Homo sapiens: one gene and its partners. The protein of the gene in region 1 interacts with the protein of each later gene in a biochemical or structural test. Each region holds a gene or a part of one and is shown in the gene's direction. Other genes may lie near its edges.

Region 1 (3,753 bases):
CCCTGCAGAGGGTAGCTCTAGTGGCCAGCTAGCTCTCTTGCTGAAAATGAGCAACATAAGTACATGAAAAACCCAACAAGTAGGATTTGAAAGCGGGGCTAATTGTACCCTTATTTCTTCTGGGGATAAAAGTCTTAAACTTTGTTTAAAGTAAAATGTTTTTATTTCTGACGGTGATTTGTTTCACTTAAATAGCTTGTTGTTTGTTTCTTTCATTTCTCTTAAGTTTTGGGTTGGGTTTGGTTTGTTTCCCGCAAGTTTTGCCCGTGCCGCCTTCCTCCTTGTGCCTGCAGGGACATTTGCTGGTGTGGCAGCCTCCAGGCCCGTCCCCAGCCTTTTTCTTGGCACACCTTCTCTAGGATGGCTGGGACAGTGACTTAGCTTCTACACCTGTGACTAACCATTTTCATTCCATTCTACAGCTTTGACAATTATTCTGCCAATGTTATGGTAGATGGAAAACCGGTGAATCTGGGCTTATGGGATACAGCTGGACAAGAAGATTATGACAGATTACGCCCCCTATCCTATCCGCAAACAGTAAGGATTGCAGCTGACTTTTAATGTGTCTTTTAGAGTATATAATTCTCGAGCGCTTAATTAGTGCATGTTACCTATGGACTTGCTTATATTGCCATCATTTGGGTATTGAGTAAATAGCAAACAGGGTGGGATTGGTTCCATGTAAACATCCCCCTAGATGCAAGCCCAGGGGTTTTGTGTTTTGAGCGTTACCAGCTGTTCCATTGTTGGGCATTTTACAGTCTTCCATTTAGCTTTAGAATAACCGTATGAAAGAGCTACTTTTTGTTTTTGCAAACCAGTTTTTAACACCAATTAGTTTGAAGGCAGGTTTGCTGTGTGACATTTTTGTACCACAGAATCAAATTAGGCAGTTAAGATTCAGGTTTCTTTAAACCAAGTTAGTAACTAATCTCACAGGTTTAATACATTTTTTCCCACAAAATACATAATTTGTATGGATTTTGTGAACCATACAATAGAACCTAAATTTATTCAATGTAGATTGAAGTTTTGGTTTTGTAAAATGTATCCACTGTGTCTAATCAGAAAAAAAAGTTTACTTTTGCTTCTGTATCAGACAACTAAGTGATTTATTTACCAAAGCTAATTAGAGCAGTAGCTGGTGAAAATGGGTACTTAGAAGACATTGTTGTCATTAAAAGTTACTTTTCTTTAAGCAGCGGTTTTACTTGTGTATCATTTGCTTATCTTGTTACATGTTTGTTCTTCATTTTTAAAAGTATCTTTGGAAGCAAAAGTTAAATATGCTTGAGATTCCTTGGGTTGATAACCTGTGTGCATGTCCTAGCTCTGTGACTTCAGGCAGGCTTCATCCTCTCTCCAGTCTTTGCCTGTTTCCTTGTAGGGTGAGATGAGTACGTGTCACGCACGCATAACAGTCCTGGGCACATAGCACACACTGTGGGGCCAGCCGCTGTCAGAATTCTCCTGTTCCTCAGTGTGCGGGTGGGTCGGCCTAAAGAGTGCTGCTTTCCACGTTGTGCCCAAATGAGTGGAAGTTGTGTGGTGCTCAGCACACCTGGGTTGGCCGGAGGGATTGGGGTTGGGGTTGGGTTGAGGTCAGGAAGACATCCTAGAGAAAGGCTGGCTTTGAGCCCTGATTGATGATGAGGCAGCCTGTGATTGATTCAACCAGTACTTCGTTGTAGGGGGTAATATGGGTGAAATAACTTAGTGGTTAAGTCTGCTGTATTAAAAATCAGTCTATAATCCCCAGACAATTCAAATTCTTCAGTATCTTAGGAAACTCTTCTATACCCAGTGGATGTTTAATAATTCAGATTGTAAATGGATTTAAAAACATACTGGCTGGTAGAGTAGGAGACTTCAGCCCACTGGACACATGTGGAAGGGTGTGGTGTCATTCTGAGAAACAAGAGCCACCCTGCTGTGACTCAGGGGGTACCGGGCAGGGTGAGGCCTCTCTAAGGAAGGCCTCACAGTAAGTCAAGGGTGACTTGGCAGGAGTCCCACTTTGTGTTCTGAGGAACACACAGATAAGGAAAGAGAACTCTCCTCAGCTTGAACAAAGCTGTAGAGTGTGACGCCTGGTATCAAAGTAGGTGTTGTCCTCATAGGGCTAGAACTTAAACTTCATGTTTCCTCTGTGTGAGACTGTGGACTGCTTTCCTATAAAATATTTGAGGAGCAAGGAGGGAGTGGGACATGGTTCTTGCCCTCAGGTAGTTCACAGAAAAGTCCCATAAACTGTGTAAGACACCCTGTGCTAGCAAGGGGGTGAGCCGGGCGCTTAAGGAGCAAGAGGGGCGAGCACCCACCCAGCAGTGGAAGCATTCCTGTCTGGACTCCTTCAGAGATAAGGAAATTATCTTGACAACTCAGGGGCAGGCCACAGATGCTCAGATACCAGTGTCTGGAAGGTCTCATCCCTTTGAGCCACACTGTCCTAAGAAGAACTGGATCTGGTAGTAACATGCTGGCACCTGGGTCTCTTGTTGATAAAGGGGAAACCTCTAAATTTTGTACTACATGGAATGTGGTCCCTGATTGCTGGCTCTGTGGTCTGCAGACCTGTTGATGTAGCTCATCCAAGACTGCTTAGACACTCTCCTGAAGGACCAGTTGGAAGATTTCTTATCTAGGGTGTCCTAAAAAGAGATGTTACATTTCTTGTGGTCATTTAACATTGGCATCCTCTCTATTGGGCAGCTCTGTCGGGCTAAGTCTGTTCAGACCATTCATTTCTTCTTCGTTCTCCAAAAGATGGTGAGCAGGTAGTCGCCATTCTTAGTTGAAATTGCCCTTCAGGTTTTTATTTCCCGAATTACGTAATCCTTACATTATTTTCTCTTGAAAATCTTTGCTAAGTTCTGCATACTCATCTTCAGTTGCTATGCACAGAATCAAGTCTTGTCAGAGTAACGCTCAAGTCCAGCATCTTCCCTTGTGTAGATCACCTGTATTTATTTGCCTGCTTGTACCAGCATTGGTGGTGTGAGTGGGAGCCTAAGTGACCTGTCAGTGTCACAGCGAGTCCTGAGCCCTGTGTGTGTCCTGAGACTCAGGCTGTGCAGCGGGTTCGCTGAGATGCTGAGCCTCCATGTTGGGGTCAGCCAGGACCCCAGTGCGTCATGCCAGTTGTTTCATTTTCTCTCTAGGCTAAAAGTTGTTGTTGTTGTTGTTGTTGTTTGAGACAGAGTTTCGCTCTTGTTGCCCAGGCTGGAGTGCAATGGTGTGATCTTGGCTCACTGCAACCTCCGCTTCCCAGGTTCAAGTGACTTTCCCGCCCTAGTCTCTCAAGTAGCTGGGACTACAGGCATGTGCTACCATGCCTGGCTAATTTTGTTTTGTATTTTATTTTTTTTGAGACGGAGTCTTGCTCTGTCGCCCAGGCTGGAGTGCAATGGTGCGATCTTGGCTCACTGCAAGCTTCACCTCCTGGGTTCACGCCATTCTCCTGCCTCAGCCTCCCAAGTAGCTGGGACTACAGGCGCCCGCCACCACACCTGACTAATTTTTTATATTTTTAGTAGAGACGGGGTTTCACCATGTTAGCCAGGATGGTCTTGATCTCCTGAGCTTGTGATCCGCCCGCCTTGGCCTCCCCAAGTGCTGGGATTACAAATTTTGTATTTTTAGTAGAGACGGGGGTTTCTCCACTTTGGTCAGGCTGGTCTCCAACTCCTGACCTCAGGTGATCCGCCTGCCTCTGCCTCCCAAAGTGCTGGGATTACAGGCGTGAGCCAC
Region 2 (3,753 bases), on another chromosome or scaffold:
AAATCTGAAGAAAGGCTGAAAGTGGCAGTGAAGGTATTTGTTAGATAATAATTGGGAAGAATTTCCTGGCAGAATAGTTCAAACATTTTCTAAGGTTCCAAATATGGTTGTATAATCTCCTTCCATGGCGGTCTTTAAAAGAAAGATTATTTCTTTCCTTGAAATATTTTAAAGGTGAGTCTTTCTGTAGCACATGGTGTAGTTTGTAGCATTCTGTAATCATGTCAGATTCAAAAAGTGAGATAAACTTTTATATTTATTTGCAGAAGGATAGCTAATCATTCTCAATAAGAATATTTAAAATAGTGTAGGATGAAGGGATTGTTTAACCACTGTACCACTTATAAACTATTAATCTTTATTTGGGATTAAAAATATCCTAGCAGGTTTTTTTTTTTGTTTGTTTGTTTGTTTTTTTTTTTTTTTTGGAGACAGTATCTCACTCTTTCACCCAGGCTGGAGTATAGTGACATGATCACAGCTCACTGTAGCCTTGACTTCCGAGACTCAAGCAATCCTCCCCCTTCAACCTCCTCAGTAACTGGGACTACAAGTGCATGCCTGTGTACCCAGCTAGAATAATAATAGGAAATAGTTTATTCTCTCCTCATCTTTTTTTTTTTTAATAGAAAGGTGTTAATCTTTACTTGGAATTAAGAATTTGCTACTCAGTATTTTTTTTTTTTTTTTTGAGATGGAGTCTCGCCCTGTCACCCAGGCTGGAGTGCAGTGGTGTGATCTTAGCTCACTGCAACCTCTGCCTCCTGGGTTCAAGTGATCGTCCTGCCTCAGCCTCCCGAGTAGCTGGAATTATAGGTGTGTGCCACCATGTCTGGCTAATTTTTTGTATTTTTAGTAGAGATGGGATTTCAATTCACCATGTTGGCCAGGCTGATCTCGAATTCCTGACCTCAAGTGATCTACCCACCTCGGCCTCCCAAAGTGCTGGGATTACAGGCGTGAGCCACCATCTCCGGCCTGCTAGTCAGTATTTTAATAGAAGTTTGGTAATTGTATCTCTTGTTTTAAAAAAACACTAATTATTAGAAATGGATTGTGTCTGTAAGTATATGTATATACATAAATATGCCACATTTTGTAATTTCTTGTCAAAAATTATCCAAATTCTAGGAATTATATGTAATGAAAGGAGCACAGTAAAAAAGCTGTTCATTAGGTTCTTTAGGGATTCTCATTTTTTAATTGAAAAAAGACATTTGTTTAATTGAAAGTTGTTGACATTGATCATATTAATACAGAAAATGTTGAGTGATTATACTTAGGGGTTCTCATTTTTTAACTGAAAAAATCTTATTTGTTTAATTGAAAGTGGTTGACATTGATCATATTAATACAGTAAATGTTAAGGGTGATTATATATAGTAGTAATGTGTGCTTTTAAAACTAAACATTTGAAAATTAAAAGAAGAAAGATTGTGAATTTTTTGTTAGATTTAGTTTTTCCTTTTTATTACAAGGAATACATACATACAAATTAAATTATTGCCATAAATGAAGAAATTGTCATTTATGTAGCATTTGTATAATTTTATTACTTACCTTTAGGCATTACTATCACGTTAACTTGGGAAGATAGAAATGACTAGAGTAAATTTTCTCTTCTATAATATTTGTCTAGTTGTGTTTTGTTTTTTTTTTTTTAATCCTGTAGTTTAAGAATGATGTTTAAAAAACACTTTTGTTTCTCTCAGCCTCTGGAATTGCTTTGGCACTCGTTAGATGAATGGCTAGTTTTAATAGCCACAGAATTGATGAAAAACAAAAGAGACTCAACAGAGATCACTTCTATTTTACTGAAACAAAAAGGCCAAGATCAAGATGCTGCTTCCATTCCTCCATTTGAACCTCCAGGACCTGGGAGCTATGAAAATCTGTCCACTGGCACAAGGGAATCTAAACCAGATGCTCTTGCAGGGAGACAGGAAGCCAGTGCAGATTGTCAGGATGTTATTTCTATGACAGCTAACCGGCTAAGTGCTGTCATTCAAGCTTTTTACATGTGCTGTTCTTGTCAGATGCCTCCGGGGTAAGAAAGTTTTGGCTTATTATTTTTTTTTTCTCTGATAGATGATGAAAAGCAGTGATACTTTTGTAATTTCAAAAACAACAAATAATAATTTGTTGATTTAAAGTTTTCTCCTTGTTTTAAGATACTCATACTAATCTAGATCTAGTAGGGAATATTTAAATATTAAGCAGTATATATTATTACTTTGTAGAATGGTGAATGTCACCTTGTATAGGATCTCTTAATTATGTATTTGAAATGTGTAGAGCAGAAATGCACCAAATTTCAAGATTTTTAAAAAGTCACTTGTTGATATCGTCTGCTGATGAGAAGTTAGAATCATTTTACAAATTGGCTAGGCATACTTCAGTTTCCTAAACTTACAAAGAAGATTCAAAACCAAATTCTTTTTTTTTTGGTTTAGAAGCCAGTCCAGTTCAGTATATATTTATCAAGTTCGCTATATTATATCACAAACTTTTGCCTGTGTATTCTGATTGATGTTTTCCCCCCACAGAATGACTTCACCTCGTTTCATTGAATTTGTCTGCAAACATGATGAAGTTTTAAAATGCTTTGTTAATAGGTAAGCTTTCTGGGTTTGTGGAGTACCCTGCTAGCCTTTCCTCTCTTTACTTACAGTTTCATCTAAACAGAAAAAATACTATTTCTCGTACTATTCAAAATATGCTCAATAACAAATGAAACTTTAATAGATATGGATTATTATGTGTTTTTCTTCTGTTTCAGTGTCAGTGTATCTGAATTTGCATTTCACTTAATGCTACTCATTCTTCCTGTCCATTTAAACAAAATATTTTTCTTTTAGAAATCCCAAAATTATATTTGACCACTTTCACTTTCTCCTTGAATGTCCTGAGTTGATGTCAAGATTCATGCATATCATAAAAGCACAGGTAGAAATTTTTCTTCATCTTTTTATTCTATCTAATGAAATTAATTTCTAAAATTCTAATACTGTTTAGTGGAATAATTATTACACTTCAGACATTCTGTTGTAAGAGGAATGATTGCATGTTACTTTAATATGAGGAGTAAGTTTTCTTCAAGAAATATGTACTGAGTGCCTACTATGTACAGAGGTCTGTACAAAAACAACAGAACACATTGCCACATTTCCTGAAAGGAGCTTAATGAAACTCTTTAGTTCTATAAGGCTGATTGTCCTTTTGAAAAGGATTTTAGCCCCCAAATACATTTGGGAAATTACATAACATATGCCCTTTGGAAATTTATAAATCACATTGGCAGCATGTTAAAAGGCTTTGAGAAGCCCTTCAGTAAAAATAGTGATTTAGCTTTGTTAATCCTCCTAACTTATTTGACCTGACCACCTTTCCCCTACCAGATGTGTACCTGTTCATTCCATACATCTCATGTTACATGAAGCTAGCTGGAGGAAAGCTTGTTTTGCTCCTTACCAGCTATGTGAACTTTGGGCACGTTTCCTAATATCCTTGAGCCCTTGGTTTCTTCATCTACAAAATGGAGATAATGACAGCAGCCTCATAGAACTATTGTCCAGAATAAATTGTCAGGAATGACTGTGATATATGCTCAATAAATGGTAGTTGTTTTGGAGATAGAAAACTTACTTCCCTTCTCTAAGAGGATTCTAATTCAGTCTGGCTGGGGAGATAATAAACATATGTATAAAATAGTAACTACAACATAACCTGGATCTTTAGGAGTTTAAGGGAGGA
Region 3 (3,753 bases), on another chromosome or scaffold:
AGGCACTCAAGTATTTGTTGAATGAATAATGTAAGATGATTTAATTCTATGTATTGCCAGCTGCGACATTGGGGTTTTACTCAAGAACCGTTCTCAGAATGAATAGGAATCATGGTCCAATGTGCAAATCCAAGGGGATCCTAACATTTTTGGGGGATTCATTTTAGGTTGAGCTTTTCCCTTTATGTGTCTCCAACCAAAGCCTGCAAGAATTTTTAGCCTAGTCTTTTGTTCGTTTGTTTGTTTTAACCACCACCTGAAAACTGCTGTTGCAATATTCCAAGCCAGGATTGTTTCTTTTGAATTTGCAAGTTGGTTTTGCAAGTCTAAATAAGCACTCTTAACTTTTGAGTCTTTTAACTTAAAACTGTCTCTTCCTGGTCTCCTGTGGTTTTTGTCTTTCTCTGGTGATACTTAAAGCTATATAGGGCCTGTTTGACTCCACACAAAGGTTTCTCTTCCTTGTCAAGCTCTTAAAATGCTTTGTTTCTTTCACTTTCTTATTAGCCCTAAGATACCATGCCCAGTTTTCTCCTTTCCTAGCTTCCTTCTGGGAGAGTGGCTTCAATTATTCATCCGTTTACTATAAAATTATGAGTCCTTCTCCACCATGTGCCAGACCCTGTGCTGGGCAGGATGTTCAGCTATATACAAGAGTGCAGCCCAAGTCTTTAAGGAGCTAGAGATAATATGACATGATAAGTGCTGAAATGAAGAGATGAAATAGAGGGATGAAAAAAGGTGGTATATGATCATAAAGGGGGGGAGAAAGCTGCCTTTCTATTTGTTTCCCTCAGTTTAGGAATAATTTGTCAAACAAGCATCATTTTGACAGGCAGACTTTTAAAAAATTTTAAGAGGTCATGGGCTTTGTTGGGGAAAACTAAAACAAAAATCAAGGTGGAATCAGCAGTTGCCAATTTGAGACATTAATTCTGTTGTTGCTGGTTTTAATGAATTTTCTGATCCCTCTCCATGTTATTTTTCTAAATAATAACCAGAAAGTGGGAGAAAAATATTTCTTTTTGGCATAGTAAAGAGACAAGTTTAAGGTTATCAAAAGAATACATCTCACTACAGTTTATTGTTTATTTTTGAAAAGCGATAAACAATATGCATCTAAAAACGAGGCTTTTGACTGTTTATGATAAAGAAATGATAAATGTTTGGAGTGATGAATATGCTAATTATCCTGATTTGATTATTACGAATTATATACATCTCAAAATATCATAAATATGTACAATTATTACATATCAACTAAAAATAAAAGGAAAAATGCATTGATTCAAAATTAATAGTCAGTATATTCAAACTTGAAAATAAAAAATTTAAAAACATTCTCCCACACCAGTGTTTGCTCCTTCTGGGTCATTTTCTATGCCCATTATTAAAAAAAAAAAAAAAGTCTCTTCACAGATGTTTTAATTTCTAAGGGGTAATGTTGTAATTTGTAGTGGGTGAAAATGAAACCCTGGAAAAGTTAGGAGACCTTCTTTAGTGTCTATGTTACTGCATGACCTTGTAGAAGTAATTTTTATCTCTGTGTTTTGTCCCAACTGTAAAATGGGGATAGTAATAGTTGCTACGACTAGTTTACAGGATCATGAAGCAATTAAAATAATGACTATAAAGGAATCTTTGAAAAGTATAATTTGCTTGTTAGTTGTTAGGTGGTGGTAAGCTTACTAAAAATGGCTTATGTTACTGAATACCTGTTCTGTACCAGGCCCTATATGAGATGTTTAACATGTTCTTTTTAACCCTCAGAATAACCTTATGAGATGATTGCTGGTATCTCTGTATCATAGGTGAGGAAACCTGAGAGTCATACTAGTAAAGGGAGCTTATTTAAGGTTTTGCTGCAAGTAAGTGGCAGACCAACAATTCTAGTCCATGTGCACCTGACTCCAGCAGCTATGTGCTATTTTCAGTACAGAGGCTGCTTTTAATGTTTCTGCACAGAGGATATAGGAATGTTTTGCAAGTAAATATATTGCAGTGAGAGTTAAAGTTTCCATTTGGTATGTTTTTTTTGTGTGTGTATTAGAAGGCTTGGTGAAGACAGATTTACATTCGTTTACATTTATCATTCATACAGGAAAAATAACATCTTTCCTGGATGTTATTTTGTTCAATCTTCGTAACAGCCCTATGAGATAGGTATTCCCATTTTACGAGTTAGCAGGCTGAGGATCATATTAATAGAAGTCTTGGCTTGCTCAGAGGCACATCATTAATGAATGCCTGAATATTGATTTTAAACCACATTTTAAAATTCTAAGTGTAGTACTTTACTTTGCCACTATAACATATTGCCTTTTAAACTCTATCAAACTAAATTTTGGGGCACTAGACACATTCTTTTAAATTGGTTCCTAATCTCTTTAGCTTCTTCTCCCTAAGAAAACCCTGACTGAAGTCCACAGTTTGAACTAGAAAGGATAATTGCTGATAAAACTCTATGTCAGATGGTCATGATGTTGCAGACTTAGAAGATAATACCTCTTTACTGAAGCTGCCAGATCAGGCTTTATCCAGTATTTGGAATCACTTGTGCCTGAATATTTCCCTGTGCCATCGTAAATTTATTAACTTAATGTGCTACATTTTTCTACCCTTTTTGTAAGCCTTTTCTTTCATGAATATCTTCCTCTTCTCTCCCATTCTTTTAGTTTTTGAGATGGGGAAAGTCATGTATATGCTAGGCTTCTCCGGATTATCCCTTCTTGAGGAATAGTGTAGTAGTAAGTCTAGAAAGAACCAGAGGTTCATTCATCCCTCATGAGTTTTCGTGGTATTGATTGACTGTAGAATTCATCTAATTCTTAAGTCCATTATGTCTTGGCTTTTGTTCCTGGAGTCAGAGTTAGGTAATTTGCATGCAGGATTGGGAAATCCATTCTTGTTTATGGGCTGCTTTCTTTTATTACTTTTCTACTTCCAGCCTTCTCCAATATCCCTTTCCCTTTCAGACTGTTAAGTACTAACTGAGGCTGGCAAGAGCATTTTCTAATTTATAGAATCTGCCTTTTGAATCTTTTGGGATGGCAAATGACAATGACAGTATATGCATGGCTTCCACCCTCATCTGCCTGCCTATATCTTTAAGGTCCAGCTTTCCTTATTTCCTCCTGGATTCCCACAAAGCTAAGATTGATGTCTTCCTCACTGGTGGAACCCTTGATTTGTGTATTACTGCACTTACCAAGGGAGGGTTTAAGGAAGAGCACAAAATTTGAAGTTAGACAAAGAGCTACTTGGACACTTATTTAAATCTCTATTTGTTCATTTGAAAGAAATAATACCTAACTTACAGAATTCTTGTGAAGATTAATAATATATGTAAAAGTGAATTGTAAGATACTGAGCTATATAGATGTTAGGTAGAGTAGTTTGTAATTTTATGACTATGATTGTGTGTAGCAGTGGTTTTAATTTCGGCTATGCACTTGAATTACTTGTGAAGATGTAAAGAGTTGCCTTGGCATCTCTATTTTGAAAGGTTTATAGGTGATTCTGATATGCAAAGTTGAGAAGCACTGCCTTATATTAACAATGTTTTGCATAAATGTCTTATGTAAGTATTATATGAAAAGTAATATTTTATTGCCATTTAAAGTTCATTCATTTGCTAAATACATATTATGCATCAGGCATTGTCATAGGTTCTGAATAAACAGATGAATCATAGCCTCTACCCTTGGGTTTATAGTTTCCGGGAGAAACAGACATGTGCATAGACAATTACAC

The links.
Region 2: of the proteins of RAC1 (region 1) and HACE1, one has a biochemical effect on the other in vitro, tested with the Homo sapiens proteins (5 studies listed by BioGRID and IntAct, with this or other methods).
Region 3: the proteins of RAC1 (region 1) and PAK1 form a complex in vitro, tested with the Homo sapiens proteins (17 studies listed by BioGRID and IntAct).

What each region holds. Positions count from the first base shown.
Region 1 is NC_000007.14:6,391,502-6,395,254, forward strand, and holds part of RAC1 (ras-related C3 botulinum toxin substrate 1), read left to right. Parts: intron 1-422; coding exon 423-540; intron 541-3,753. UniProt on the Homo sapiens protein: Plasma membrane-associated small GTPase which cycles between active GTP-bound and inactive GDP-bound states.
Region 2 is NC_000006.12:104,783,279-104,787,031, reverse strand, and holds part of HACE1 (E3 ubiquitin-protein ligase HACE1), read left to right. Parts: intron 1-1,712; coding exon 1,713-2,047; intron 2,048-2,546; coding exon 2,547-2,615; intron 2,616-2,858; coding exon 2,859-2,946; intron 2,947-3,753. UniProt on the Homo sapiens protein: E3 ubiquitin-protein ligase involved in Golgi membrane fusion and regulation of small GTPases. Acts as a regulator of Golgi membrane dynamics during the cell cycle: recruited to Golgi membrane by Rab proteins and regulates postmitotic Golgi membrane fusion.
Region 3 is NC_000011.10:77,467,342-77,471,094, reverse strand, and holds part of PAK1 (serine/threonine-protein kinase PAK 1), read left to right. Parts: intron 1-3,753. UniProt on the Homo sapiens protein: Protein kinase involved in intracellular signaling pathways downstream of integrins and receptor-type kinases that plays an important role in cytoskeleton dynamics, in cell adhesion, migration, proliferation, apoptosis, mitosis, and in vesicle-mediated transport processes.